Homo sapiens: one gene and its partners. The protein of the gene in region 3 purifies or fractionates together with the protein of the main gene of each other region. This does not show direct contact. Each region holds a gene or a part of one and is shown on either strand. Other genes may lie near its edges.

Region 1 (4,018 bases), on a different chromosome or scaffold from region 3:
ATTAATTGAACCCGGGAGGCGGAGGTTGCAACGAGCCGAGATTGCGCCACCGCACTCTAGCCTGGGCAACAGAGCAAGACTCTGTCTCAAAAATAATAATAATAATAAAGTTTTTACTGCTACCAGTATGGTATCTTTTTTTTTTTTTCCAGCATTCCTTTAGCAGAAGATTCACAAGACCAGTAACATCTTTTAAGTGTACGACAAGAGGCAGAATATATTTAAAATCTAGTTGAATTTGTTGTCAACACACATCAATGTTTTCTAGAATATCCTAGAACATCCTAGTACAGAAGGTGAATGACAACATTCACAGCAACTGGATGCAGAAATCTCCCTGAATTAACATTACATATCTTAAGTAATTTACCCTGTATATTTTCATTGGTGGACTATATGCCATATGCCTTCATCCAAGCACAGTAAGGATCTAGTTCAAAACTGAACACAACTTGAAAATTTTAAAATTTCAAAACACATGCATTCCATACACAACATTTATACTTACAAAACTATTTGGACATACCATCATACAGCTTAACTTGCTCTATGACTAATTATTGCATTAGGTGAATCCAACATTTCGTAAACTTATCAATGGTAAAAATTTATTGTTCAAAACACTACGATGAAATGCATTAAAATAACACGACTGATGAACAGAAAGAGGGATAGAGGGGTAAATATATGATAAAACAAGTGGAATGCAATTTTTTTTTTGGAGGGGGTTTTGAGACAGTGCCTCCCTCTGTCACCTAGGCTAGAGTGCAGTAGCACGATCTCGGCTCACTGCTACCACCGCCTCCCTGCTACCACCGCCTCCCAGGTTCAAGCGATTCCCCTGCCTCAGCCTCCCGAATAGCTGGGATTACAGGCACCCGCCACCACGCCGGGTTAATTTTTTGTATTTTTAGTAGAGACGGGGTTTCACCATGTTGGCCAGGCTGGTCTCGAACTCCTGGCCTCAAGTGATCCTGCCGCCTCGGCCTCCCAAAGTGCTGGGATTACAGGCGTGAGCCGCTGTGCATGTCCGGAATGCAATGTTAACAGTAGGATCTAGGCGGTTGGGTGTATGACTGCTCCCCGTAAGTTTTATAATATTGACGGATAGTTCAAAATATTTTCCTAATAAATTGTTGGAAAAAATAATACTTGACACTTCTTTGGTCATTTACAATTTAAGCTTTTAAGGAGAGAAACACAGATTAAAGAAACTCCTCTGTGGCATCCCACACAGGCACTATAGTTGGGACAAACCTGGATTCAAATCCTACCTCAACCTTGCAACTAGCTGTGTGATCTAAGTAAATTACTTAAGCCCTCAACACCTAAATTTCCTCATCTGCAAATAGGTTCTAGGAGGAGTTACTATGAAGTTAAATTCTTCACATAAAGGTCTTAGCTCAGTGCCAGGCACACAGTAAGCACTCAAAACATCAGCTGTAGCATCATTACGAGATTACTAATTTTACGCTAAGCTGAAAGGGCATTCTTCATAAAGTAGTAATTTTTTGCCCTTTTGCTAATTGATCGTTTCTGAAACCATTCCCAAAAGGAAGACTCCTAAAAGGAAACTTACTTCTTATCATGCTAAGCGGGGAGGAAGTAAAAGAAAAGTGAGGGATATTGCTCAATCGATAGTACAGTATTGTTCGCCATCTGAAAAAAACCACTCAGAATTAAATAAGGAAAGTTTCCAGACAAACTTTAAAAGGTATTCAAACAACTCCTATGTAGAATTGGCTTCACCTCTGCAGGTTGATTGGGTACATCCCTGTTATGAGAAAACTTGTCGTATTCTTCCAAGTCCCTAATTGCGAGTAAGAGGCTAGGCTAGAACATGACATTCATAGTAGCCAAAATCTTTCTCCTAAATCAGGACATGCCAACGATCCCACTTCTTCACAGGTAAGACCACCACCCCGACTTTGGTCTAGATAACGGCTATGGGGGGAGGGGAAAGGAGGCAGGAAAATGAATTCGCGATGGTGTTACTGAAGAACCCTCCGGTTATTTCTCCTGAGACCCCTCCACGACTTATTCCCGCCACCACCACCCCCACCTGACCTCTCCCCAGTTAACTTCCAGACTCTGATGTACTAAAGATGCACTAAAGATGCACTTAAGAATCTGACACCTCCCCTCCCTGGGCCTAGATATCCCACCCCAGTGCTGGGGAACGTCGGGGGGAGGAAGGCAAACAACGGCCCCCTCCCCTCCCCCCCACCCAGCACCAAATCTTTGTCCCACCTGCCGAGGGACCGCTCGCCAGCGCGCTCCGGACCCAAGGCTGCCTCAGACCTGCCCGCAACCTTGTCCTAACTGGGCCTCGGCGACCCCTCCACGAACCTGAGTATGGCCCATTCCCGGCCCCGGGCCGCGCCCCGCCCCCCGCCGCCCGAGTTCTGCCTCACCTCACCTACCCTCTTTCGGGGGCCGGACTCCACCTCTCTCTCCGCCATGTTGGGCCCCGCTCGGAACCGCTGCGGCTCCCCGCGCGGTGGCGGCGGTACCTCTCGGCCCCCCGGCCCCCGCCCACACTGCAGGCACGGCCGCCTCGCGGCAGCTTCCCCGGACCCGGCCGGGCCTTGCGCCGAGAGTGGGGAGGGGGCGGATGCCGCGCGCCGGGCCGCAGCTTCTGAGATCCCACGGGTCCGCGCGTGGGCGGGAGGGCCTGCCCGGGGACGGGGTGGGGGCCGGGACTCGGGGGGTTAATGGCCTCCAAGGGGCCCCGTGAGTAGGATTATTTTCTCTCAGAGAAATTCCTCCGCCTGCGGTTTCTTAAAGGGATCACCAAATCAGCCCCTTGCGCGCGCCCCTGATGCGCAGGCGCACCCTAAGTCCCTCCTTCCTTTCCCACCAAGCCCCCGGTCCTGAGCGTGCGCGGTAAGTGGCCATGGGTAGGCCAAATCCTGCAAGTCTCTTTGCTGCCAGCAGCTGCTCCCACCACTCAACTATGGCCGCTCCCTTAAAGGGACCATGACGCAGGGATGAAGGAGAAATGAAAGAAATTACTGGAAAGACAATCTGGAGAATTGGGTGCAATGTCAGTGAAGGGTTCCACATCACCATCTTACACCTGACTACAGTGGTACCATTGAAGAGGGAAAGTCATGGTAAGCTGAAGTTCTCAGTGGACCTCTGAACATGAAGAATCCCAAACCAATGAGGGAACAAGACAGTCATCTCAAGGAAAACCAACTTTCCTCCCTTTCGACTGCCTGTTCTGAAGCACAAGGCATAGAATATCAAGAGCCAACTCCTATAACCTCACCTTAAAATCAAAGCTTTTGGTGATTTTGAAGATTGAACCAACAACTGGAAATAATTTCTTCAATAGTAATTTATCCTTAGAACATCAAAATGGAGAAGGATCTTAGGGAACCATTTACTCCAGTGCTCCCAATGATAAAATTGCAGCCTGATCATGGGAAGGAATTTGTCCCAATGTAACTAATGGCTGGTGTGGAGTTGGAATCAAGATTACAGTCTCAGTCCTCCAGGCTGTCTTCAGGCGAGAGATAAATTTGGTTTAATTTGATATCCCTAGAAGATTAAAAATTGAAGTTTCATGGTATTTGGAGAATATCATAATTCTCTTGTGAAGATGTAATGATTTGCAGATGATGGGTGTCCTCATTCACCTCTATTGAAGGAGCTTGACAATCTGCCTTAAAGGATAAGCATCTTATTTCTAAGCAGGAAACCAGGAAGTAGATTTGGGTCTATCTTGTTCCAAAACTGGGTCCTAAGCTGAAAATCGCTGAAAAGAATGAGGGCTTCATTCATTCCTCTTCTGTTCATTCTAGTTCCCACAAGCTTTGGGTGCAGAAAAAATTAAGTTTATAATGATAGTTCAGGGACAGTGGGGAGACATATAGTAAGAAATACAAAGAAGATGCCTCCTGAAGGTCATTTCCCATGACAAGACATATTCAAGTGGGAATGATAACTCCTGAAGTCACAGGATAATGAGATGTAACTTCTGTTTTCTGTTTTATTTAGCACTTGGTAGCTA
Region 2 (3,500 bases), on a different chromosome or scaffold from region 3:
AAACTTCATTTAAACAACTTTTATCTTCATTTTTCACTAATATTTCCAACAGCTAGTCTCATATATAGACATATATAAAATGCACTTAGAATTGCTTACTTACATAAGTATGTTTTTCTTTCATGTAATCACACAAATTACAGTGTGACTATATGCTTTATCCTTAAAAGAAATCTGATATCAAATATGAAAGAGTGACATCTGCTGTTTTTCATGCTCAGCATCCAATGCCACTGCTTATGGTCAGAGGACCATTATTTTTCTTTTTTTTTTTTTTTTGAGACGGAGTCTCATTCTGTTGCCAGGCTGGAGTGCAGTGGCGTGATCTCCACTCACTACAACCTCCACTTTCTGGGTTCAAGCGATTCTCCTGCCTCAGCCTCCCAAGTAGCTGGGATTACAGGCACATGCCACTACACCCAGCTAATGTTTTCGTATTTTGAGTAGAGATGGGGGTCTCACCATGTTGGCCAGGATGGTCTCGATCTCCTGACCTTGTGATCCGCCCACCTTGGCCTCCCAAAGTGCTGGGATTACAGGCATGAGCTACTGAGATTACAGGCGTGAGCCACCACGCCCGGCCAGGATCGTTATTTTTCTTTAGGGTACCACTCCTCTTTCTCTTGCCCTCTTCAGTTTCAGTGGCAATGGTCTCAGTCTATTTCTGGGACTTCAGGAGGAAGCATTGAGCAGTACATTCCATACCCCTGACCACAGTGGTTCATGGCTTAACAATGATACTCAATCCTGGGACTTTTATTGGAGCCAGTGGGCAAGAGAAGCTCTATAGCAGCTGAAAATATGTAAGACTGGATTCTAGGAACTGCTGGTGGCCATAACACTGCATGGTAAAGCCAAGAAAAGATAAAAGCAGAACTGAACAAGGGATAAAATCTTGATGACATCAATTAAGCCACTGATCCAGTTGTGCGTGAGGCAGATTACTGCTAGACTTTTAAGTTATGTGAGCCGATAAATTTATTTTATTTGGTTAAGCTGCTTGCATTTGGTTCCTTTTTACGATGACCAAGTTTCCTAATTAATATATATCATCTTTCATATAGTTAATGTTACCTTTTCATTTGGTTTTCACACACACACAAATGATGTATACCAACTAGCTATATGCAAATGATAATTGCTTTGGTCCGTTGTGGTGGCTCACGCCTGTAATCCCAGCACTTTGGGAGGCCAAGGCGGGCAGATCACTTGAGGTCAGGAGTTCGAGACTAACCTGGCCAACATGGTGAGACCCGTCTCTACTGAAAATACAAAAATTAGCCAGGCGTGGTAGCACACTCCTAAAATTCCAGCTACTCAGGAGGCTAAGGCATTAGAATCACTTGGGCCTGGGAGGAGGAGGTTGCAGTGAGCTGAGATTGAGACACTGCACTCCAGCCTGGGCTGATGAGTGAGACCCTGTCTCAAAACAAATAAAAAAAAAGATAATTTTTTTTTCTAGAAAGATAAATAATACACCCTTACTACTTTGATCTCAATTATGTTTTAGAAATCATGACATTTCTATTAGTCTTTAATCTTAACAGATGATATTTAGTAAACACATAGTGCCAGGTACTATAGAATGACTCAAATGGTTATCTTCTTTTAATCATCATAACAATTCAATAAAGTAAGTGCTATTATTTTCATTCCTCAGAAAAGAAAACTGAAGTTCAGAGAGTTAAGCAACCAGCTAGGGTCACACAGCTGGTAAGTCACAGAGCCAGGATTGAAACATTAGTACATCTGCCTCCAAAGCACATACTTCTACACTACCTCCATACACATATATTTTATTCAGGCATCCGAAAAACATCTGTTGAGTACCTATTATGTGCAAAACTATGTTTTAGGTCCTTGCAGGCTACATACAAAGATATTTAAAATTAGACTGTCCATGAAAATAAAGTTTAACTTAGAGAAATAAGTTTGTATAAAAATTATTAGAGGCCGGGCTTGGTGGCTCATGCCTGTAATACCAGTACTTTGGGAGGCTGAGGCAGGCAGATCACGAGGTCAAGAGATCAAGACCATCCTGGCCAACACGGTGAAACTAGTCTCTACTAAAAATACAAAAATTAGCTGGGCGTGGTGGCACATGCCTGTAGTCCCAACTACTCGGGAGGTTGAGGCAGGAGAATCACTTGAACCCAGGAGGTGGCGGTTGCAGTGAGCCAAGATCGTGCCACTGCACTCCAGAATGGCAACAAAGCAAGACTCTGTCTCAAAAAAAGAATAAAATAAAAAATAAAAAATTATTATATACTTTAAGCAGATAACAATAAATATCACAGACAAGTAAGAAAAAATGCTATGGAAACAGAGAAGAGAATCAAGGGAGAATCAAAGAAGGCTTCAAAAATGTAGCTACTGCAGGATGCAGTAGCTTGCACCTATAATCCCAGCTACTGGGGAGGCTGAGGCAGGAGGATTGCTTGAAGCCAGGAGTTTGAGACCAGCTTGGGCAACACAGTGAGACTCTCTTAAAAAAAAAAAAGTAGCTATTAAGTTGGACCTTAAAGGATAAACAGTTTTGAATCTTAAGAAAAAATACTCAAAGACACAGAATGATAAAAGAGCAAAGGTCTGCTATTATAAAAGTATATAATATGCTAGGGGCATGTTGAATTGTCTGCTATGATTAATGTGTGAGGTTCATTGTGGTACTTCAAAATGGGAGTAATTATTACAGGTTTAGACACAGATAAGCTTCCTTGGACGGTACAGTGAAAAACCTCCACAGAATGGATGTTAAAAACCAATTAGATTTCTGAAGAGTTCTTGGTTCTAAAAGGCTGAATTCTGAGGTAAAATTATGTTTTTAGAATAATACTGTTATTATCCTAAAATAACAAGAGAAGCAAGAGGTATTCTACTTCTTGCTCTCTAGTTGAGACTTTACCATGCTAAGTTTTTAGAACTTAGGAGAAAACCACAATAATCTGCTTAGGGAAAGAACCTTAAGAGGCAGAGGCAGAGAAAGAATAATGAGCTCTCTCCCAGACAAATAACACAAAGCAAAAAAAACAAAAACACACACACACACACACACACACACACACACACAAAACAAACAACCTACAGGCCAGGTGTGGTGGCTCACGCCTATAATCCCAGCACTTTAGGAGGCCAACGCAGGAGGATTGCTTGAGCTCAGGAGTTTGAGACCAGCTTGACCAACATGGTGAAACCCTGTCTACAGAAAATAAAAAAATTAGCTGGGCATGGTGGTGCATGCCTGTGGTCCCAGCTACTCAGGAGGCTGAGGTGGGAGGTCAAGGCTGCAGTAAGCCGAGATCATGCCACTGCACTCTAACCTGGGTGACAGAGTGAGATCCTGTCTCAAAACAAACAAACAAAACAAACAGCAACAACAACAAAAAAACAAAAACAAAAAACAACCTACAGATGTGAGAATGAGAATGCAAAGACTTTGAAGAAGCAGGAGGATCCAAGCTTAATGGGTAGAGGTAGAGATATTGGCCTTGCCCAAGAAG
Region 3 (2,534 bases):
TTGAATCCTTTATTTGCACAAACAGAACTAACTGGCAACATGGGTGGGCACTGACTTTGTAAAATCCAAACCCCCTTTTGTTCTCTGCACCCTGGTTTACACTGAAAAGTGTGTCCTCCATTTTCCCATTTTCTTTTCTTTTTTTTTTTTTTTTTTTTTGAGACAGAGTTTCAGTCTTGTCACCAAGCTGGAGTGCAGTGGTGCCATCTCAGCTCATTGCAACCTCCGCCTCCCAGGTTCAAGCAACTCTCCAGCCTCACCCTCCCAAGTAGCTGGGATTACAGGTGCCCACCACCACACCCGGCTAATTTTGTATTTTTTCAGTAGAGACAGGGTTTCACCATGTTGGCCAGGCTGATCTCAAACTCCTGACCTGAGATGACACACCTGCCTCGGCCTCCCAAAGTGCTGGGATTAGAGTCCTGAGCCATTGTGCCCAGTCCCGTTTTCAAACTATTAACGGGAATAAAGCCTTTCCACCAAATTCCTTTTCAGAAAACTTCTGTTCACAAATCTAAATTTAAAAGTCAATGTACAGAGAGAAAAACAAAAAACAAATTTAGTCAAATTTCCAAGCCCCTTGATTACTGGAGTAGTTTTATGAGTGAATAGAGAAGGCAGCGACCCGCAGGTTTGATTTCAGGGGCTCTGGGAAGCACTCTCCATTACCCAACCCTGCCCCAAGGTTTTCTTGCTTCCAAAAACAAAATCACTAAAAACATCATCAGTAGGGGAAGAAAAAAAAATTGTTCCTTAACTAGCCAAGCCACGTTAAGACTCGTTAATTTGCACTGTCCAATGGGGTAAATGACTGACACCAAATCTATTATTGATAGCAGGTTTAAAATAGGAGGAAGGAGGAAAGAGCAACAGAAATTGGGAGCCAGATGGCAGAGCAGGAAAAATAAACACCAGAGTAGGCCTGGTATTCAGAGAGATATCAGGAGCTGAAAGTCTGGGACCAGAAGATAAACTTGATCAACTTCACTCTTCTGTGGAGAGTGGCCTGAATGATTAGACTCTGAGGCCACAATGTAACTCGACCTTGTCAATAGGTTCTCTTGTAGTTCTCTGCCAGTACCAGGCAAGTATAGATGTGGCCCAAGGAAATGTGGCTCAGAGGTCCTGAAAACAGCAGGCTGCATTCTGAGACCCCCTGGTGGGAGTTCATTTGTTGTACAGTGCAATGTGGGGATGTTTGCTTTTCAGCATCTTCAGTGACTTGTTGGTAAAACTTTTCTCCACTAAACGGCCCCAGGATCCTTTTGGCAAATCCCATTATTAGAAAATACTCAAGTGGTAGTCATTTACACATTAGTGTGAATTAATTTGCCAATGTATTTACCTCATTCAAACTATTCTAAGTTTGTTTTTGTTTTGTTTTGTTTTGTTTTCTAATTGAAGAATAATGGACTTTGTTTCCCACCATAGTAATTATTTCCTTCAAGTGAGTAGAAAATATTTTTGGTGTATGAATGCATGTGTATTAGGGGATGTGGGAATGAATGTGGATGTATGTAAAGGAAGTTCCTTTGGACCTTTTGAGTTATGTTTTTAATATTGGGCAACTCAATATGAGTCAGGAGACCTAAATGCCACAGCTCAAAAATGCACGTGTCACTGAAGACAAATCACCAGAAACCTTTAGAGCCTCAGTCTTAACAACAGTTTTTATAACAAGTGACTAATATAAGTGCAGATAGGTTCCTGAGGTAAGAGCTCTAAATATATTAACTCTAATCTTCAGAACAACCCTAGGAGGTTGTATCTACTTTCATCATTAATTTATAGATGAGTAAACTAAAGCACAGAGAGGTTAATTAACTTGCCCACTGTCACACAGCTGACACATGTCAGAACCAAGATACAAATCCAGGCAGTCAGGTCCCAAAGTGTATATTTTTTATCACTACACTGTATCATAATCTTTCATGTAAAAATGTAACTTTTTCCTCTTTCATCTCATAGGACAGTGTGAGAGTGGATCTGAAATAAAATTGATTGAAAAATGCTGACCTGTCTCCCTTTAATCTTGGCAATAGGGGGACCTTTGGGGCTGGCCTTCTCTTCCCAATTCTTGCCCATAGTAGGTGCTCAATTATATCTATGAAATTAGTGAATGACTATCCTCAAATGCAGCCTTCCTGTTTTTGTCATACACCTACCCTTTCCTGTACATTCCAATTCTCTTAAAATAATTAAAGTTCATATCCAAGCCTTCTGTTAACCAGCACTTCACAAATCTCTATCCTAGAGTCATCATGACTCCAACACTGGACCATATTCTGACCACTAGAGGAACTGAATTAGAGTTTCACTGATGGTAAGTGCATTTTATTGTAACCCACTTAAAATAATTCTCTACCAATCAAAATATTTAATTAACCAGAACCTTATTCTGTAACCATGCAAAATTACAACATGTTTTCTGTCTCCAGTTTGCTATTTATTGGCCACACTGGTGTTTGAAAACATTGAGGCGACAGGCAGAAGTTAAGACATTATTGCTTAAGATATCTGTCCAGGTCTCTACC
Region 4 (3,500 bases), on a different chromosome or scaffold from region 3:
GATTTGCCAAGTGGCAAATGAGATGAGCCCTTACCGAGCTCACTGTCTACCTGAAGGCAAGTGAGAAATAACAATACAGTAAGACGTGTTGTGAATGAAGAAGATGGGAGAACAGAAAGCAAGGGGACCTAAGCTGCCCTGGAGGTTTAAAGTGAAGCCTGAATTACCCAAGCCAAGGAGAGGATGCAGTGGGCAGAGGCAAAGATGATTCCACAAACGGGAAAAGTACATGTGGAAGCCAAAGGGTTTTAAAGTACAACATCCACCAGACATGTGGGTCCACAGGTTAAGAGTATTAACTCTGGAGTCAGACTGTCCAAGTTCAAATCCTAGCATTAGGACCCTAGAGCAGTCATCTCACCTCTTTGAGCCAATCTATAAAAAAAGAGACACAAATACTGTCTGTCACACAGGGCTGTGGAGAGGATTTAGGGGAATAAGCCATATAAAGACTGGTGCCGACAAGGCACAGTGCTCACACCTGTAATCCCAGCACTTCTGGAGGCTGGGACAGGAGGATCACTTGAGGTCAGGAGTTCAAGACCAGCCTGGCCAACATTGTGAAATTCCATCTCTACTAAAAATACAAAAATGAGCCAGGCGTAGTGGTGGGCACCTGTAATCCCAACTACTTGGGAGGCTGAGGCAGAAGAATAGCTTGAACCCAGGAGGTGGAGATTTCGGTGAGTGAAGATCATGCCACTGCATCCCAGCCTGGGTGACAGAGTGAGACTCTGTCTCAAAAAAAAAAAAAGAAAAAAGAAAAAAAAAGACTGGTGCCTGCCTCACAGGTGAATGCCCAGTAAACGGTAGCTTTTCATAAGTCTAGTACAAACCATTGAGGGAGAGAGTCAGTGGCAGACTAAAGGCTCTGAAGAATCCCACAGGTGAATTTTATTTGAAGTTTCCCATTTGCAGTAGAAACATTCCTGTCACAACAACTGTATTCACATCAGGTGAACCTGAGGCCCAGGGCCCAGGTGGGAAGTGCAGTCTGGACACATCACATCAGGCTCTTGTGGTCCTGCACTCCAGACCCCAAACGTGGCTGAACATGTGGCTCCCTTTTTTACCTCCTCTATGGGGCTCAGGCTGAATTGGCGTTCCTTCCTCCGGGTTCCCCTGGCCTGGCCCTCTGCCCACTGTGCACCACTGTCTGTCTGCCTGCTTGTCTGTCTCCATCCTCCCAGGTCAGGATGCCCACTCTGAGGTAAACATAGGCTTTGCGCCCACAGGATACTTGGCAAGTGCCCAATGACTTCTCCCTTTTTCTTGGCACCAGGGACTTGGTACTCAGACCCAGCCAACCAATCTCATCAGGCCTGGGTCTCCCCTCCCAAGCCTATTAGGGCACTAGATCCCCTCACCTCGAAGCTTCTCGCCAGGTTCCAAGTGGCAGGAGAACCCGAAATCTGAAAGTCGGATCTGCATATTGTCATCTAGGAGAATATTCTCGGGCTTCAGATCTCGATGCACAATGTTGTTGGCATGGAGAAAGCTCACTGCTTCCAGCAGAGACCGCATGATGGACCTGGGGGAAGGGGAGGCGGGTGCAGTCTCCTCCTCGGCTCCTCCCTGCCCTGTCCCACCCCCTGCTCACCCCTGGGGCTTCAGGCTCAACCCTTACCTGGTTTCCTTTTCAGAGAGGGCCACCTTCTCTGTGAGATAGTCAAACAGCTCTCCCTTCCGCATCCTAAGGGAAGGAGGGGCATAGGAGGCAGCTGCATCCCACAGTGGGGGCTGAGAAAACAGACCAGTGCTCATACAAAATATTGTGGAAGAGGCCACTAAAGATAGATCTCTGCAGACAAACCAAAGGGTCTAGAAACACAGCACTCCAACAAGGCAGTTTGGCCTGGTGTGTTGGCAGCTGAAATACCTGCATTATGCCATGATGGGGCAATTATGGCAAAAATAAGAGACTTCTTGTGACAATATAATTTATAGGAGGTTCTTGTTGAGAGTAACTATGCCTGAAAAAGGCCTCTCAAAGTGAATCTATAAAGAAAATGGACCAAAATTTCAGTTTTTTGTGGCACAAAGGTTGAATAGGACCTTATTTTGAAGTTTCGTCTTTAAAAGCTGAGGTTATAATTATGTGTCAATTAAAAATAATACTTTCAAAATTGAGGTTATACTTGCACTCTGCATCAGTCCTCAAAGTAACATTATCAGGTGCTGTTTTGGGGAGTGTAGGCACTCTGCATGGCTGCAGGATGGCATAATAGACATCCTTACGTCCCCTCTGACTTTTGCAGAGGGCCATTTCTGTAAATATATCGAAGCCTTCATGAATTTTTTCCAAGGGCCTCTTTTAAATCTTTGGAATTCAAATCATTCTCTTTCAAAATACCTTTGCAGTTGGTTTGCATTATACCAATTGCATCGGACATTCAGATTCTGACCAGAAAAAGAACTGATGGGCAGAGACAGACACCAGAATAGTTAGCGTGTTAAGCAGCGCGAGAGGCTGGTGAGTGAGGATCTATTTTCTAAGTGGTCAGTCCACTGCTGAACACTCTCTTTTTTTTTGGAGATAGAGTCTCGCTCTGTCACCCAGGCTGGAGTGCAATGGCACGAACTCAGCTCACTGCAACCTCCGCCTCCCGGGTTCAAGCAATTCTCCTGCCTCCCGATTAGCTGGGATTACAGGCACCGACCACCATGCCTGGCCAATTTTTTGTATTTTAGTAGAGACGGGGTTTCGCCATGTTGTCCAGGCTGGTCTTGAAACTACTAACCTCAGGTGATCCACCTGCCTCAGCCTCCCAAAATGCTGGGATTACAGGCATGAGCTACCACGTCTGGCTGGTCACTATTACTTTATTTTTTGAGATGGAGTCTCACTCTGTCGCCCACGCTGGAGTGCAGTGGCGCAATCTGGGCTCACTGCAAGCTCCGCCTCCCGGGTTCATGCCATTCTCCTGCCTCAGCCTCCCGAGTAGCTGGGACTACAGGCGCCCACCACCACGCCCGGCTGATTTTTTGTATTTTTAGTAGAGATGGGGTTTCACTGTGTTAGCCAGGATGGTCTCGATCTCCTGACCTCATGATCCACCCGCCTCGGCCTCCCAAAGTGCTGGGATTACAGGCGTGAGCCACTGCACCCAGCCACTAGTCACTATTAAAGAATTTGCCTCAATCATGGCACCAAGGGAGAAGGCCAGAGCCATGCGCTAGCAGGCAGGCCCAGGTGATAGAGAGCCCCAGCTGGAACAGGAAGGTGTGAGCAGGATGGGTCCAGCCCACTGCACCACAAATGCTGGGCCATACATGGAGGTGGGGAGGAGGCTTCTCAGATGGTGGCAGGGAGATACTCACAGGTCAAACACCAGGAACATGAAGCTAGAAGACTCGTAGGAATCGATGAGGGTGACTAGGGAGAGAGGAAGAGAGGCAGAGAGACAGAGATGGAAAGGAGTGGATGCACATTAACGGGGCTTGGCCACCCTGGGACAGCAGCGGGCTGTTACTGGGAAGAAAGGAGAACCAGAGGAGGC
Region 5 (3,500 bases), on a different chromosome or scaffold from region 3:
GTAGAAGGCACAGCCAGGAGGCCAGTGTGGCAGGAGCTGAGTGAGGGGAGAGTGGTAGGAGAGGATGACAGAGACCCAGTTGGGAGGCCTTTGGATTTTATTCTGAATAAGATAAGAGAGAAGTTAAGAGAATGAGAATATTGGAAGTGGAGTCAATGAATATAGATAATTTTCTAGTTTTATTGTGACAAAAGAGCAGAGAAATGAAGCAGTAGCAATTGAATATTGTTGAATTAAGGGAAGGTTTTTAACCCTTTTCCTGTTTAGAAAAAAAGTGCAGCTCAACACCAGTGCTCATTTAATTTTACGTAAACACACTCTCTGAAGCTGAAGCAAATCTGACTAATTTTCAATGTGAAAATAAAATATAAAAACTGTTCTTAGAGTTATTTCTAAACAGTACTAACATCAGAATCGTCCCAATCATCAGAATGTCTGTTTTTTAAAAGTCAGATTTATCAAATCAATCTTCGGCCAACAACTTTTTGAGAATGATGTAAACATCACACATAGGAATTCCGCATTTTCTAGGATTTGACATTTTCAGCTATTGAAAATTACTATATTTTGTAAATGGACGTACCGCTACTAAAAACAGAATGCTTGAAATAGAATGTCTTTTGTTTCCAAAGTCAGTACACTAGAGCTATGTGAAAATAATCATAAAAGTGAAGATATTTTATGGCAGAGTTATGTTGGGGCAAATGCTGCAGCTGCAAGCGGTGCTGGCAAATATTGTCGGAGCAAGTGGGAAAAGGATTAAAGATGTTTATATGCTGATTATAATGATCTAATAAAGGGGGGAAATGATGCAAGAGAGAGGGAAAATTGCAAGAGCAAAGTTACTGAGGTGAAGGAGATTGTGACTTGGTGTACTAGTCCATATCTGGGAGCACTGACAATTTCTCCAGGGTCACAGGAAGAAGGTATGGGGCTGCAGAGTCTTTCATTGAACAGATATTTACGGAATGCTTAATATGTACCAGTAGCATTCTAGGCAATATGTTGGTAAACAGCAACAACAAAGAAGAACCTTGCCTTAATGGAGGGTATGTTCTAGTAGAGGGAGACAGATAATAGATAATAAATATAATACATAATTGTATAGTAGGTTAGAAGGCAATAGTGTTGTACAACAAGAAAAAGCAGAACCAGGCAAGGAGAATGAGGGTGCCAGAGTATTCATAGATTGCATTGATAAGGTGGCATTTGAACCAAGATTTGCAGAAAGTGAGGGAGTAGTCCTGAGGATATCCTGTGTTCAGCAAGGAGAATAGCTGATGCAAAGCCTCTGAGGTGGTTGTGTGGCTGTCATGTTCAAGGAACAACAAAGAGGCCTGTGTGGTCAGGTCGGGGTGAAGAGCTAGCCATGGTCGGGGCAAATGATGACATTAGAGGAATAATGAAGAGCGGGGAGGAACAGATCAATAAGGCCTTATAGGCCATTGTACAGACTTCCGTTTTAAGTAAAATGGAAAGCCAGTGCAGGATTTCGAGCAAAGTAACAAAAGTGCCTTTTAAAAGGCTGCTCTTTTGAAAATAGTTGTAGCCAAGATGTAGAACCAGGGAGTCTAGGCTACTGGAGTATCCAGGTGATACTTGGGCTAGGGAAGTAGCAGTGAAACTGGTAAGAAATGGATAGATTATAAATGTGTTTTGAAAGTAGAATTAACAGGATTTCTTGACAGGTTTGATATGGAGAGGGGAGAGAAGAAAAGCAATGGGGAGAGAGAGAGAGAGTGTCAATCATCAATGATGCCTCCAGGGTCTTTAGCCTGAACAAATTGAAGGATGTAGTTTGCATGGAAGTCTGTCAGTGGATCAGGTTTGGGGGAAGAAGATCAGGAGTTCAGTTTTGGACTTGCTGAGTGGTGATAACAAGCAGTTGGGTATACAAGTTTAGACAGAGGTGTGGGCCAGAGACATACATTTAGGAGTCATGATCAACTATCTAAAAGTAGTATTTAAAGTCATGATCTTACTGGAGAAGATCTTCAAGGGAGTGAGTAGAGATAGAGAAAACACAGAAGCAAGCAGTATATTCTGGGCACTCTGAACATTAAGATGTTGAGGGAAGAGAAAATAACAAAGGAATGTGTGAAGGCCCAACCAGTATAGTAAGAGGGAAAGCAGAGCAGGACAGTGTGCGCAAAGTCAGGTAAACAAAAAGAAAACATGGAGGAGGAGGGAGTGCTCAGTGAGGTCACATGCTGCTGATCCATCAAGGAAGGTGAACATAGAAACCAGTCGTTGAGTTCACCAGTGGAGGCAAGAAAGGGGAACGTGTGGAAGTTTCCTTCTGATTGCTTCCGCTTACTCAGTGAAATACTAAGCCAGATGATCAGCTGTTAATTAGAAAGGAGAAGAGATTAAAGACTGAGGCAGGAAGAAAAAGTGAAGTCTGTTAACAGATCGTGGTGACTCTAGGAGTGAATCAGTGGAGAAAGTCAAGTGATATTAGGATTACTGAGGTGGACTGAAGTCCCTTTAAGTTCTGTGGACATAAATTTTAAATGAATCATTATGATTGTGTTTTGTTTTTTTCATGTTTAGCTGGTGGGGGGTAGGTGTAGAATAATTGGAAGATTGAAATTACCAAGAATTATGGCAAGAATAGTGGGAGAAAGACAGTGAGGCTGATGCTGAAATCTTCAAGAAATGAAATCTGTTTACAAGTGCAACAGGGTATGGGCAGCCTAGTGTGATTCATCTAGATTGCACTTTTGTGGGTCTAGCTATGGATTGAATCGTGTTATGTGTTACTAGTTCTGTGTGTGGTACTGTGTGACTGTACCAGACTTTACATATCCATTTTACTACCGATGGGAATTTGGGGTACATCTAACCTAGAGAAAAAAACAAAATGAACCTCAGACTACACCTCATATCCTGTTCAATAATCAGTTGTAAAAACATGGGAGAGAAACCTACCTTTTACATTGTTACTAGCATCCTAATTGTAGAAGCTGTGGATGATACTTCAAGAAGAAATTAATTTTGTTTTGGCAGGCAGGGTGTGGACAGGTTTCCTTGAAACAGATGAGGCTGGTCTCTTTCCGGTTTGTCATTAGTCCCTTAGTGTTTACTAGAGCTTCTCCTTGACCAACCCTGAATTCCAGTTTTTTGTTTCCCTAGAGCAGTGAAAGTGCCAAAACCCCAGCTTAGCATTTTAACCTCCTTAGCAGCTTCTTTCTGCTTGGTTTCCTAAAATGTGAATGCCGTGAAAGGAAATTGTGCGCAGGATGTAGGGTTTTGTTTTGTTTTGGAGGTTTATTTCTGCAGTTCATTTTTCTTTGGGATTGTGGCACCTTAAGACGTGACTACTTAATAACTCGGAATTCCAATCTTGTCTACTCAACCCAGTGAAACTGCTACACATTTTAAGTTTTTCTCTTGGGCCTTTGCCCTGTGCTACAAATCAGCAAATCCTCTGATGGAAAATAGCTAAACAGCTTTCCAACAGCTGTTTATTGTTTTTAAATTTAGCCTGTTTAGCTAAT
Region 6 (3,500 bases), on a different chromosome or scaffold from region 3:
CGAAGCCCTTCAGCTGCCCATCCTGGCCGCACGCCAGCTGCCGGAGGAAGGCAGGCAGTCATGAGCATCTGGGCAGCAGTGACTGCACCACCCCGGGAAGTGACAACCGTAACCAGACTCAGCTGCCCCATAAGGGTGAACTCCACGCCAGGCCTCCACTGCCCTGTGCCTCATTCCTGCATCAGCTCATCTGATTTTCCCAATGACCCTGGGAGGCTGCATCATACCCATTTCTCAGAGAAGGCAACTGAGGCACGGAGAGGTCAGCGCACCCAAGGCCACACAGCTGGAGGGAGGGCGGAGCTGGGAGCCACCTCACCAACAAAGCCAAGGCCACGGGCGGATGCGGTGGCTCACACCTGTAATCCCAGCACTTTGGGAGGCCGAGGCGGGCAGATAACCTGAGGTCGGGAGTTCGAGACCAGCCTGACCAACATGGAGAAACCCCGTCTCTACTAAAAATACAAAATTAGCCAGGCGTGGTGGCACATGCCTGTATTCCCAGCTACTTGGGAGGCTGAGGCAGAGGCAAGAGAGTCACTTGAACCTGTGAGGCAGAGGTTGCGGTGGGCCGAGATCGCGCCACTGCACTCCAGCCTGGGCAACAAGAGCAAAACTCCATCTCAAAAAAAAAAAAAAAAAAGAGATAATCAGCAACGGGTGGGGAAGGAAGGGCTCTCGTTCCAGACAGTGGCCAAGCCAGGTAGCAGTGCTAAGGGAAGTGGTTGGGCTGGGCACCGGCACTTGCTGAATGCCCGGGCAGCAAAGGTGCAGGTAGCAGCCCTTCACCTCTGCCCACGCCCTGTGCCAAGGTCTGGGCACAGATCTCCCATAACCAAACCTGTCGGCTTTTGTTTTGTTTTGTTTTTTTTGAGACAGAGTCTTGCTCTGTCACCCCGGAGTGCAGTGATGTGAACTTAGCTTACCGTAACCTCCACCTCCTGGGTTCAAGTGATTCTCCTGCCTCAGCCTCCTGGTAGCTGGGATTACAGGTGTGCACCACCACGCCCAGCTAATTTTTGTATTTTTAGTAGAAATGAGGTTTCACCATGTCGGCAAGGCTGGTCTTGAACTCCTGACCTCAAGCGATCCGCCTGCCTTGGCCTCCCAAAGTGCTGGATTACAGGCGTGAGCCACTGTGCCCGGCCATAAACACACCCATCTTAGGGATGAACAGAGAGAGACTCAGAGGGGTCACAGAGTGATCAAGGCCACACAATTCCTAAGTCGAGGGACTGATGTGTGAACCTCAAGCTGCTTCACTGTCAAGCCCACCCTCCATTCAGCTGGGTCACCTAACATTAAAGGTGGGCTCCTCGGAGGACATCACTTCAACGCCTGCTACTCATCAGATGCTCAACAAATGTTTGGTGAGACCAGGCCCAGTGGCTCGAATCTATAATCCCAGCTCTTTGGGAGGCAAAGGCAGGAGGATCGTTTGAGCACAGGAGTTTCAGACCAGCCTGGGCAACATAGGGAGACCCCATCTTCACATAATTTTTTTTTTTTTTGAGGGAGTCTCGCTCTGTTGCCCAGGCTGGAGTGCGGTGGCATGATCTTGGCTCACTGCAACCTCCACCTCCCTGGTTCAATCAATTCTCCTGCCTCAGCTTCCCGAGTAGCTGGGATTAAAGGCACCTACCACCACGCCTGGCTAATTTTTTTTCTATTTTTAATAGAGACAGGGTTTTTGTTTTTTGTTTTGTTTTTTTTGAGACGGAGTCTCGCTCTGCCACCCAGACTGGAATGCAGTAGTGGGATCTTGGCTCACCACAACCTCTGTCTCCCAGGTTCAGGTGATTCTTCTGCCTCAGCCTCCCAAATAGCTGGGACCACAGGCACATGCCACCACACCCAGCTAATTTTTTTTTTTGTATTTTTAATGGAGATAGGGTTTCACCATGTTAGCCAGGATGGCCTCGATCTCCAGACCTCGTGATGCACCCACCTCGGCCTCCCAAAGTGCTGGGATTACAGGCGTGAGCCACCGTGCCATGAGACAGGGTTTTACCATGTTGGCCAGGCTGGTTTCGAACTCCTGACCTCAAGTGATCTGCCCGCCGCAGCCTCCCAAAGTGCTGGGATTACAGGCATGAGCCACTGTGCCCGGCCTCTACATAAAATTTTAAAAATCAGCTGGGCATGGTGATGCATTCCTGTAGTTCCCCAGCTACATGGGAGGCCAAGGTAGGAGGATTTCTTGAACCCAGGAGGTCGAGGCCGGAGTGTACTCCTCCAGCCTGGGTGATTGAGAACCTGTCTCAAAAAAAAAAAAAATTAAGTTTAGTGAATGTTCGAGTGGAGGAATGAATGGGCAGCTGTTCACAACAACCTGATCATGAAGCACTGCCAGCCCCATTTTGAGATGTGGAAACAGGCTAGGAGAGTACCTGTAGCTGGTCATGACCCTGTGACCTTTGATCTCCACATAAGAAGGTAAGGCCAGGCCAGCGCAGTGGCTCACACCTGTAATCTCAGCACTTGGGGAGGCCGAGGCAGGTGTATCACCTGAAGTCAGGAGTTCAAGACCAGCCTGGCCAACACGGCGAAACCCCATCTCTATTAAAAACACAAAAATTAGCTGGGTGTGGTGTCAGGCGCTGTCATCCCAGCTACTCGGGAGGCTGAAGCTGGAGAATCACTTGAACCCAGGAGGCGGAGGATGCAGTGAGCCAAGATCGCGCCCCTGCACTCCAGACTGGGTGACAGAGCAAGACTCTGTCTTAAAAAAATATAAAATAAAATAAAAGAAAGGTGAGGCCATTGTGCTAACTCATCTTCTGTCCTGAGCCCGCACAGGCGGCCTGGTACATAGCAGGCCTGGTACGTAGCAGGTGTCCAAGAGAAAGCAGCAGAATGGATGAATGATAAGTAAACAGAGAGGGGGTTCCCGTGGCTCATGGATACTCAGTTTTTGTTTTTTTTGTTTCTTTGAGACGGAGTCTCGCTCTGTCGCCCAGGCTGGAGTGCAGCGGCACGATCTCCACTAACCGCAACCGCAGTCTTCTGGGTTCAAGCAATTCTCCTGTCTCAGCCTCCTGAGTAGCTGAGATTACAGGCGCGTGGCGCCATGCCTGGCTACCTTTTTTTTTTTGTTGTATTTTTAGTAGAGACGGGATTTCTCCATGTTTGTCAGGCTGGTCTCAAACTCCTGACCTCAGGTGATCCGTCCGTCTCGGCCTCCAAAGAGCTGGCATTACAAGCGTGAGCCACTGCGCCTGGCCTGTTTTTTTTTTTTTTTTTTTTTCTGTTTTTGAGATGCAGTGTTGCTTTGTCACCCAGGCTGGAGTACAGTGGCGTGATCTCAGCTCACTGCAACCTCCACCTCCCAGGTACAAGCGATTCTCCTGCCTCAGCCTCCTGAGTAGCTGGGATTACAGGCCTGCACCACCACACCTGGCTAATTTTTTTTGTATTTTTAGTAGAGACAGGGTTTCACCATGTTGGCCAGGCTGGTCTTGAACTCTTGACCTCAAGTGATCCACCTGCCTCGGCCTCTC
Region 7 (3,500 bases), on a different chromosome or scaffold from region 3:
GTTGGGTACTATGTTCACCATCTGGGTCACAGGATCAATAGACGTCCAAATCTTGGCATCACACAATATACCTTTGCAAACAAATCTGCTTATGTACCCCTTGAATCTAAAATTAAAATTTAAAAAAACCTAGAAACAATGACCAACCCCAAAATTACAGCACACACTGCCTCCCAACAAAATAAAATAGTGTTTGGGACTTCTGGAAATTTATCTGTGAAGGAGCAGGTGCTGGAAGCAAGAAATTTGAGATAGAAACCAACATTTCTATAACTAAGAAATAAGAGAATGAAATAATATGAGAAAAAAAATTCTAAAAATGGTAACATGTTAAGGACAAGAAAAAAACTGACATGACCCATTAGAAACTAGAATTCCATGAATTCTTCCACCTTTTTTTGTGATCCTTTATCTCCATGATAATACATAATTCATTCATAGATGCCTCATGAGACACCATGTTGGATACTAAAGGTAGAGTTAAAACACACAGTTGCTGTTCTCAAGGAACTTGGAGTCTAGTATACTTGACAGATAAGGAAAAAAGCAATTGCAATTTAGGATAAGTGGGGAAGGGTCACCTCACAAGTCTTGAGAAAGAGAAGATGGGGAAGGTAATAAGGCTTTGAGGGGTTAAGAATATCTATAGTGAGTCTTGAAGAATGAATGGGATAGTTAAGGTAAAGAAAGTGAAAGGGGCATTCCAAGTAAATGTTACAGCATTTGTAAAGTTATGGAGGTAAGAAACCCTTTGCATTGGAGGAAACCTAATAATTCAGTATAGCATCGTATTTGTGTTTTGGAAAGTCTACGAAACAGCTGAATGCTAGTGGAGCAGTGTCAAACTGGAAGTTGGCTACTAATTAAGATGCTATCACAGTAATCTGGTCAAGATATGTTGCAGGCCAGAGCTAAGGGGGTGTCAATAGGGATAGCGAGGAGGGAAAGTGAATGGGTGTGGCTGCAAATAGTACAGGGTCCCTGTGCTGCTGCTTTGGGAACCGAATTGCATTCTCAAAACACAATGTCCACTGTGAGTCCTAACATACTGATGGGAAAGAAAAGAAAAGTAGAGTTTAATATGTAAACACAAATGGCCCCTGGAAAGTTTAAGTTCACATAGTTTCTAGTCACTAGTTCTTCAACAATACTTAGGAGCTCTCCTTGGTTTCTGTAGCCACATTGCTGGTTTTGACTCAGTGATAAGAGAGACACAGAAAAGACTGCAAAGGAAAATAAAAGGGAGACTGGAAGGAGGAAGAAATGTTATCTTGATTATAATACCTGGCTATTGTGATTGCTGGAAACTGTTTCTATGAAATATGTGACTACTACATTAATATTTCATAAACCATCATGTTGATATTTTCGCAAAACAAAGTTAGACGACTTACAATATTTTCTCATTTAGGCTTCAGGTAAGTTTGCAAATGATTAAAAATTATAAAATTTCCTGTCAATGTCATAAAAAATAAAGTATTAAGAAGACAACATTTTCCTTACCAGAATAGAGTGCATTCCCATGTAAATTCTACTTAGGCAAACTAGAGAACACCAGCAGGGAATAAGAATCAGTCCATATATAAGAGGGTACTAAAGGGGAAAAAAAGTAAAATTAGTTAAACAAATTTAAGTTAGATATAAACAAACAAATAAAAGACAAATCAAATCACTATTCTATAAAGTCCACTAAAACAAGAAATTTGTTTTTACTCCCCATTGTATTTCCAGCACCTAACCCTGAGTATGGCACATGGCAGACATTCAAGAAATACTTTTCCACAAATGAACAAATGAATGAAATCTCATGTGTCTAAATTCTTTATTGTGGGAACTGGCTCACTTCTGCTTCTACAATGAAGATTCAATCACTGGCATGGTATAGGAGGAGGAGGACAGGTAAGAGACATACTTTTAATATGGCCACCAAAATGAAAGGGCCTCTGGAATAGTACCTGAATCTGGTCCATGTAAATGTCTTCAGTTGTCTGGGGAGGAGGATTGGCATTATCTCCCTCTCACTTCATCAGTGACTGCTATCTCCAATTTATATTGCTATTCCCCTACCTTGCATTCAGTATTCAACACTTTGTACTTAGTTTTTCACTTCCACCCCATTGACTAAAATTTCAAATGGTCCCCTTACTGAGAAAAATTTCCGTGGAATACTAGGAGCACAAATCATAAAAGGGAAAAAGCATAAACAGAAAGTGCAGACAATTCTTGGTATCAATGGCACTAGTGGAAAAGTTGGCTGTGAATGTCCTGAGATTGGAGGGAAAGAGGAAAGGATGGATGGGCATGGTGGTAAGTTTGTAAAGGGAAGAAGGGAGGGCACATTTGGGGCTGTTTATGCCTGATGACTTCAAATTTCTCAATGAAATTGAAGCCAATGTGGTTAGGGAAGTTGGGTTGAAATAAAGGAGCAAGGGACTTAAGTAAGCTTGTAAGAAGAGTAGAAAATATTTAGTACGAAATTGTTGGTTTTTGGTGGTTTGTTTTGTTCTGTTTTTTTAGAAAGACAGGGTCTCACTATGTTGCTCAGGCTGAAGTACTGAGGCTATTCCCAGGTGTGATAATAGCATACTAACACCTTGAACTCCTGGGCCCAAGTGATCCTCCTGCCTTAGCCTCCTGAGTAGCTGGAACTACAGGCAGAGTTGTTTTTTTTTTTGGTTGTTGTTGTTTTTTTTACATATCTACTACATTTAACATGGTCCCTCACTTTCTCCTTGAAACTCTAAATACCCTCGATAGTCATAGCTTCATACTCTCCTGGTTCACCTTTCACCATTTATTTTTTGCTGCATTTCCCACACAAGAGCGTATCTTCCTCTTTTTGTTCTTTAAACATTAGTATACAGAAGGATTCTGTCCTTAGTAGTTACTGACAGTCTTACCTTTTCCTTTTTTTTGAGACAGGGTCTTACTCTGTCACCAAGGCTGATGTGCGGCAGCATAATCATGGCTCACTGCAGTCTCAACCTCCCAGGCTCAAGCAATCCTCCTGCCTCAGCCTCCCGAGCAGCTAGGACTACAGATGGGTATCTCAAACTCCTGAGTTCAAGCGATCCACACACCTTGGCCTCGCAAAGTGCTAAGATTACAGGTGCAGTGAGCCAATGCACCTGGCCCCCTTTCTTATTTTTTTAACTACTTCTAGACTAGGCATGCTGAAGACCTACCCATTTCCCCGGGTTTAAGAACCATATATCCAACTCTGCACATATTTCCACCTTGAGGTCCCTATGGCAGTAAACCCACTATACCTCAAACCAAACTCATCATCATATCACCCACACTTGTTCCTCCTCTGATATTCCCTATTTCATTTGGAAACACCAAAAACCAAGTAATCCAAATGAGAAACATGAATTATCCTTAATTCTTTCCTTAGCCGTTGTATTCAACAAATAATCAAGTTTTACTAATTTTATATTCTAAATATTCCTTGGGAGAATAATTATATTCTTTTCTGGGAGTATAAGTTCCTATTCTTG

The links.
Region 1: the proteins of SCGN (region 3) and ZMYM4 purify together in Homo sapiens (affinity purification with mass spectrometry; 3 studies listed by BioGRID and IntAct, with this or other methods). This does not show direct contact.
Region 2: the proteins of SCGN (region 3) and BBS7 purify together in Homo sapiens (affinity purification with mass spectrometry; 3 studies listed by BioGRID and IntAct, with this or other methods). This does not show direct contact.
Region 4: the proteins of SCGN (region 3) and PHKG2 purify together in Homo sapiens (affinity purification with mass spectrometry; 3 studies listed by BioGRID and IntAct, with this or other methods). This does not show direct contact.
Region 5: the proteins of SCGN (region 3) and OPA1 purify together in Homo sapiens (affinity purification with mass spectrometry; 3 studies listed by BioGRID and IntAct, with this or other methods). This does not show direct contact.
Region 6: the proteins of SCGN (region 3) and RAVER1 purify together in Homo sapiens (affinity purification with mass spectrometry; 3 studies listed by BioGRID and IntAct, with this or other methods). This does not show direct contact.
Region 7: the proteins of SCGN (region 3) and SGPP1 purify together in Homo sapiens (affinity purification with mass spectrometry; 3 studies listed by BioGRID and IntAct, with this or other methods). This does not show direct contact.

Annotation. Positions count from the first base shown.
Region 1 is NC_000001.11:35,267,491-35,271,508, reverse strand, and holds the start of ZMYM4 (zinc finger MYM-type protein 4), read right to left. Parts: upstream 2,801-4,018; 5' UTR 2,463-2,800; coding exon 2,424-2,462; coding exon of another isoform or gene 2,415-2,423; intron 1-2,414. UniProt on the Homo sapiens protein: Plays a role in the regulation of cell morphology and cytoskeletal organization.
Region 2 is NC_000004.12:121,828,975-121,832,474, forward strand, and holds part of BBS7 (BBSome complex member BBS7), read right to left. Parts: intron 1-3,500.
Region 3 is NC_000006.12:25,697,215-25,699,748, reverse strand, and holds part of SCGN (secretagogin), read right to left. Parts: intron 2,324-2,534; exon of another isoform or gene 775-2,323; intron 1-774.
Region 4 is NC_000016.10:30,751,425-30,754,924, reverse strand, and holds part of PHKG2 (phosphorylase b kinase gamma catalytic chain, liver/testis isoform), read right to left. Parts: intron 3,377-3,500; coding exon 3,322-3,376; intron 1,694-3,321; coding exon 1,628-1,693; intron 1,532-1,627; coding exon 1,368-1,531; intron 1-1,367. UniProt on the Homo sapiens protein: Catalytic subunit of the phosphorylase b kinase (PHK), which mediates the neural and hormonal regulation of glycogen breakdown (glycogenolysis) by phosphorylating and thereby activating glycogen phosphorylase. May regulate glycogeneolysis in the testis.
Region 5 is NC_000003.12:193,638,208-193,641,707, forward strand, and holds part of OPA1 (dynamin-like GTPase OPA1, mitochondrial), read left to right. Parts: intron 1-3,500. UniProt on the Homo sapiens protein: Dynamin-related GTPase that is essential for normal mitochondrial morphology by mediating fusion of the mitochondrial inner membranes, regulating cristae morphology and maintaining respiratory chain function.
Region 6 is NC_000019.10:10,323,530-10,327,029, forward strand, and holds part of RAVER1 (ribonucleoprotein PTB-binding 1), read right to left. Parts: intron 38-3,500; coding exon 1-37. UniProt on the Homo sapiens protein: Cooperates with PTBP1 to modulate regulated alternative splicing events. Promotes exon skipping. Cooperates with PTBP1 to modulate switching between mutually exclusive exons during maturation of the TPM1 pre-mRNA.
Region 7 is NC_000014.9:63,697,066-63,700,565, forward strand, and holds part of SGPP1 (sphingosine-1-phosphate phosphatase 1), read right to left. Parts: exon of another isoform or gene 1,732-3,500; intron 1,594-1,731; coding exon 1,504-1,593; intron 1-1,503.